Linked DNA regions of Homo sapiens. The protein of the gene in region 2 purifies or fractionates together with the protein of the main gene of each other region. This does not show direct contact. Each region holds a gene or a part of one and is shown on either strand. Other genes may lie near its edges.

What was found. The genes of interacting proteins can lie anywhere in the genome.
Region 1: the proteins of TTF2 (region 2) and GRHL1 purify together in Homo sapiens (co-immunoprecipitation; one large-scale study listed by IntAct). This does not show direct contact.

Annotation. Positions count from the first base shown.
Region 1 is NC_000002.12:9,996,693-10,000,099, reverse strand, and holds part of GRHL1 (grainyhead-like protein 1 homolog), read right to left. Parts: intron 1,136-3,407; coding exon 1,071-1,135; intron 1-1,070. UniProt on the Homo sapiens protein: Transcription factor involved in epithelial development. Binds directly to the consensus DNA sequence 5'-AACCGGTT-3'.
Region 2 is NC_000001.11:117,104,922-117,108,280, reverse strand, and holds the end of TTF2 (transcription termination factor 2), read right to left. Parts: 3' UTR 828-3,359; downstream 1-827. UniProt on the Homo sapiens protein: DsDNA-dependent ATPase which acts as a transcription termination factor by coupling ATP hydrolysis with removal of RNA polymerase II from the DNA template. May contribute to mitotic transcription repression. May also be involved in pre-mRNA splicing.

The sequences.
Region 1 (3,407 bases), on a different chromosome or scaffold from region 2:
AGGTGAAAGGATGGCCTGAGCCCAGGAGTTCAAGGCTACAGTGAGCTCTGATTGCACCACTGTACTCCAGCCTGGGCGATAGAGTGAAACCATCTCTAAATGAATAAAGCAAAAGCACATCAATAACACTAACTTACATGATGTGAAGTCACAGCCCCCTGACAAATTACACACTCCAGCAAGTGAGCCTCAAAGTTTAAATGAACTACTATTATCAAACAAAAAATAAAGAATACAAAAACAAGAAAATAAACAAAAATAAATTAACTACTATTAAGTCCAACTCTTTCCACTAGAACCATCTAGAAATTTCCCATTAGAATTTGTTTTAAAACTAAGCCAAAAAATTCTTATGCTAGCCACTGCTTATCCATGCCAAACATCATAGACAGACAAAAAAGAACTAAAAATACTAATTTCTAGACAAAGCAGCAACGTGACATAACTTGGAAATAGGATCCTGAGCAGGAGGGTAGAGCAGGGCATGGGCTGCAGAGGCAGGGAATACCAACCATGGCCCCGAAAAGCCTCTTGAACTCTGAGCCTCAGCCGCCTGTCTATAAATATAAACAAGCCCTGAGACCAGCTCAGAAAGAAGACGTGAAGACCAAGCGCAGCACCGTGGGACGTGCCCAACCCAGTGCCCGGCTCCAACGGGCTCGACACACGGAGGTGCTGCCCTGGCCATCCTCAGTGGCGCTGGCCACACACCCTGGAGTGTGGAGCCATGGCACTGCTGCCAGGCATGTGGAGGGCAAAGAAGGTGACTTGGAGAAACAATACACAAAGATCTCCTCAAGGCAGATCAATTTTATCTAAGTAATTTCGTATATAATTTAGAAAAGCCACATTCCAGCACCCAGGTTTCTTTGGCTGCTTCTGGACTGGGCACGATGCACACGTGTCACACTGGCACAGGGTGTGTGTCACTGGCACAGGAGGGTGTCACTAGCATGCACGGTGTGTTACATGGTGCTGGGGGGTGTCAACAGCACTGGGGGGTGCGTCACACTAGCACTGCGGGGGGCATCAGCACTTTCCGAGGTACACAGGACGCAGTGGCTGCTTACCCCTTTTTACACTTCTTGAATATTTTCCCAATCTTGTCATGGGGAACATCGTATTTGTCTGAGATCTAAAAGAGGAAAGAAAAATAATTACAAAACCCTGTATCAAGGCTTTAGAAACCAAACAACAAATATATATATATGTATATATATGTGTACATATATATACGTATATATATGTGTACATATATATACGTATATATATATGTGTACATATATATACGTATATATATGTGTGTACATATATATACGTATATATGTGTGTACATATATATACGTATATATGTGTGTACATATATACGTATATATGTGTGTACATATATATGTATATATATGTGTGTACATATATATGTATATATATGTGTACATATATATGTATATGTATATGTGTACATATATATGTATATGTGTACATATATATGTATATATATATGTGTACATATATATGTACATATGTATATATATACATGTACACACATATATACATATGTATATATACGTATATATATGTATATATATACGTATATATATGTATATATACGTATATATATGTATATATATACGTATATATATGTATATATATACACACACACACACACACACACACATGCATAGTCACTCGACTTTTTGTTTTTCAAAAACGCAGACACAAAGACATGGAAAAGCCCCAGCTCGTGTGCTGGGGGCCTCCAGCTCTCCTCAGCCCGGCTGCCCCTCACTGTAATGAGCTTCTGGGGAGCTGTGGCTGTCTTCCTTTCGGGACATAGAGGCTATTTTTAATATTTTTAAAGAGAATGGGTGAATTGCTCCAAGGACAAACAGCTGATTCACTCTAGATCAAACGTTACACTTGTCATCCAGACCATCCTCAGGCTGGCATCACCAGCTTCACCTCAAGCCACAGAGCAAAGCTCAAGGTGGCACTGAGAAACAGAGCCTCAGGTGGCAAACGTGCAGATCCTGCCAACCTTCCAAACACGTGTTTCAGACCAGACCCCAGCTCCAAGTTCTCACCACACAAACCCTTTTTCTTTTCTGTACGAGTGGATGATAATACTTTGTGTTCTGACATGTAAGACCTGTCATGAGTTCCTCGTGAGCCATGAACAGTTATGCTGGCCCAGTAATTCTGCATCCTCTTTACTCTCCTCTTTCCCTGTAATCAGAATTTGCATGTTTTTTGTTTGTTTGTTTTTTGTTGTTTTTTTTTTTTTGAGACGGAGTCTTGCTATGCCAGGCTGGAGTACAGTGGCGGGATCTCAGCTCACTACAACCTCCACCTCCCTGGTTCAAGTGATTCTCCTGCCTCAGCCTCCCGAGTAGCTGGGATTACAGGCGCCTGCCACCAAGCCTGGCTAATTTTTTGTATTTTTAGTAGAGACAGGGTTTCTCCATGTTGGCCAGGCTGGTCTCGAACTCCTGACCTCAGGTGATCCTCCTGCCTCTGCCTCCCAAAGTGCTGGGATTACAGGTGTGAGCCACCGCACCTGGCCAGTTTGCATGATTCTTAAGACATGATGAAGGGTCATCAAAAGGCAAGAAAAGAGAAACCCAGGGGACATCCTAGGAGGCAGGAAGTGACAGTGGGAACGGCGCTGCCTGTGCTGTGGGCAGGCAGGGATGCACTGAGTGACACCCGTGGACTTGGGGCGCCTGGCTGAGAGACCGCACAGCAGCTCCCCAAACCCACGCCCCATCTCCCTGCTTTATTAATCTTCATGGCACTCATCAGTACCTGAAAAATGACCTCAACTTCTTTGCTTATTTTGGTGTCTGTGTCTTCCTAACTACAAAATAAACTCCATTCAGCACTGTGTCACTGACGCGCATAACTCCAGTGCCCGCCACAGTGCCTGGCATGAAGCAAGCCCTTTATCAAGATGTGTTAAATGAATTCAACACACTACAGTCATCAGAGGGAGCTGGGGGAGATGCTTTTAGCCCAATTATGGACACACTTTGAGCTTAAAGATCTCTACGGTCTCTAGGAGACAGGCTGGTAAATATCTGCACTCAGTGCTGATGACATGCGTTTTTCCAGTGCACAGCTGGAACGGGAAATTAACACAGCAGCCTTCCATGTTTCCTCTCTTACTGATATCCCCACAGGGAGCATGGGGTCAGTTTATTCCAGCCTCGTGCTGAGATCCTCGTAAGATGGACTTACGGCCATCACTGGTTACACGTCTACTTTCTCTGCAATAGGCTGTAGTGAGGTCTTGATGCAAGTTCAGTAATTTCCTAGGATTGGGAGTTTTAAAGGTAGACTGAGGAGCCACTGTTTTTATGTATGAAGTTTTTAAGATTGTACTTGATTAAAAATCACTTTTGTTAGCTTCT
Region 2 (3,359 bases):
AGTTCTCGCTCCAGTATCAAAAATCACCCTATTAGCTAACTACCCTGTACAAAATAGCAACTTCCCACCCCAGAGTTGCCCAGTTTCATCACCATCTCACATATATATATGTTTTGTTTTGTGGTTTTTTTTTTTGGAGACAGGGTCTCTCTCTCTCTGTTACCCAGGCTGGAGTGCAGTGGCACAATCTCGGCTCACTGCAGCCTCTGCCTCCCGAGGTTCAAGTGATTCTCCCACCTCAGCCCCTGGAGTAGGTGGAACCATAGGCACACCACCCCCCCGACCCCATGCCTGGTGAATTTTTTGCATTTTTTGTAGAGATGGGGTTTTGCCATGTTGCCCAGGCTGGTCTCAAACTCCTGGCCATCTCAGCCTCCCGAAGTGCTGGGATTACAGGCCAACATGTATATATTCTGTTTGTTGTCTGTCCTCTCATATTAGATTGTAAGCTCTATGAGGGCAGGGATATTTTTAAACTACCATACTGTCCCGATGTAGGACAGTTCCTGGCACATAGTAGAGACTTAATATTATGATCAGTGAATAAAGATCTAATTGGTAGAATTTTTAGTTTGGATCTCCTTGGTATCTGTTTTTATAAGCCAGACTTCCCTTCTCCCGAACCTCAGTATTTGTCATTTAAACAAATACCACTTGGAAAAAAAATCAGCCTTATCTCGAGTCTGTTGGATAAATTATATGCACCTGAGAGACCAGCCTTGAATTTTCCAATTACCTCATACATCTAGGGAACTGCTTCCCATGAAGAAGCCTGTTGTATTATATCATCTATCCCCATGTGCCTTTTAATGAATCTGATTTCAGAATTGAGAACAAAAAGCTTACCATTTATTTCAGTTGGAGGTTTCAGTGATTGGACAACTTTATGTAGATGAAGTAACATTGCAATAAAAAATTTCCAGAAGACATCTAGGTTCTGGCTAATGTGTTAGCCTTTAAGCAATATTAATGGTAACAATTCTGTTACAAATATTTAAAGTTTGTGTGTGGGTGTTGGGGATTGGGGGTGCTGTCTCATGCATGCACTACAGTGGAGTCCAAACTCAATTTAACTGAGCTGTCTTGCCTGCTGAAAGACCTGGCAGAGTCAGTGATCAACAGAGCCCAAGACTCCAAGGTGAGGCAAAAAAAGAGTGGGAGGATTTAGGAGCTGTCCCCAGTGTAACAAAGTGCTTCAGAAATCACCTTTGAATTGTGAGCATTGAAGCGTCAACAAGATGCAGCATTATGATGTACGTTATGCCTCTGGTGTTACAGGTAAGAAAAAAGAGTCACAAATAAGAGCCTCTGTCCTCTGGGATGTTGTAACAGGATAAACACCTTGGCTGTCTTGGATAATAAACATACACATACCTGTCAGCCCACCCATACTCTAATGTCCCAAATGCAATAGTTGCTCAACTTTCCTCCAGAGAATGTATCCCTGTATGGTAGGTTTGGCTCAATGAAGAGGTGGTTCAATGAAGTGGATGCTCATTAGAAGCAGGCAGTATAGGAAGAAACATCTCACTCTGACTTGTGAGCTCTTACATATTGATTTCCATTCTTTCATCACTTCCTCAGATCTTCCCTAACTAGGTCAAATCCTGTTATAAGCCCTCCCAGCCGCACAGTCCTCTCTTGTAGCACTCAGCATCATGGCTGATTCACAGCCACACGGGGTTGACTAATGCCTGTCTCCCTTAGATGCTAAGCCTCAGGAGGACAGGATAGTTTTTCATTTTTGCTTACTTTTATATTTCCAGTGCCCAGCAGTGCCTGGCATATAAAAAGTGTTCAATATACATTTCTGAATTACTGTGTGGATAATTAAGCAAGAAAATAGTCTCATCCTTTCTGAAGTAGTCTCTACCTATTAATACATCTGGATTTAGCTATGGAATCTGGGTAAAAAGAACTCAAGATAGTAAAAACATTGTGTAGCTGCATATCTGTCGCCCCTCTTCCCTCCCTGGGAGTTAGGCTGGGTTTGCTTTTTTTTTTTTTCATATCTATCTCCATCCCCTAACTACTGACTTCTGTGGTAGTTTGTACTATAAATGACCCTGATTTCATTTGTAGTTATGAAGACATTTTAGTCTAGGTCATATGCCTAGGAATTCTGAATTTCTATTATAATTCTCTTTGTGCCTACAGATGTGCTTTTAAATTGTTCCTGCCCTTTCCTAAGTCTAGATGCTATATCACAAACAGCAGCACAATATCCCACTTTGGAAACCTAATTCTTTCAAGGTATTAGAGTTGACAGCAAAATTTCAGACAACCAGAGGCCACACTGAACACTGGTGTCTCCATGCTTATCCTATTAGTGCAGGAGAATCTGGCTTCACCTTTGAGCCCTGCTAAAAGCCATTTCATTGAGCAACAGACAATCAGAGCAAGGAAACAACTCAGTGTTCATGAATTGCCATGCTAAATCACTCACAGGATTGATAGAGAAATAAGTCACCTCCCATAAACAGAAAATTTTTTTTTTCTGTTTTTCCTTCTTTTCATTAGCAATTGTTCCAAAAACACTTACTCTGCTAATTTCTGCTAGAAAGAATCACCGTTCTTTCTCTGTGGCCCAGGCTGGAGTGCAGTGGTATGATCTCAGCTCACTGTAACCTCCGCCTCCTGGATTCAAGTGATTCTCCTGCCTCAGCCTCCCGAGTAGCTGCAATTACAGGCACCCAACATCACGCCTGGCTAACTTTTGTATTTTTAGTAGAGAGGAGGTTTTGCCATGTTGGCCAGTCTGGTCTCGAACTCTTGGCCTCAAGTGATCTGCCTGCCTCAGCCTCCCAAATGCTGGGATTACAGGTGTGAACCACTGCGCTGGGCCTGCAATGGGAGTCACTGACAAGGTTTTTAAAGGGCCCAGGACTCTGTCTAGCTGCGGCATGCACAATACTCCTATTTGATCAACATGGCTAAGGCAAAGTCAAACTACATACCTTCCATGAAGTCAATTCTGTCGAGTAAGAAATGCCTTATAAATCCGGTGCTCAGGAATGTTGCACTTTGGAGACAGATGTTCACCATCTGGTTCTCAGCTGCACCCATGCTGCTGCTGGTTCTCATATTCCCAGACCTTGTCCCACAGCAATAACACTAGCACTTGTGTGGCCCTTCATGGTTTTCAAAGCATTTATTACCTCATATCATCCATGCCCAAGTCAGGTGCAATAGGCAGATGTAAAAAGCAAATCCAGCAGCAGTATTGTGACATGAAGGAAGGCTGGTTAACACAGGCAGGACTCATAGTGCAGCACCTCAATTAGACCACTGTGTTGTGGGATGCTGCCCATCGCTAGAAGGTGCAAAGACCCACCTTGTCATACCTAGACTTGACGAAA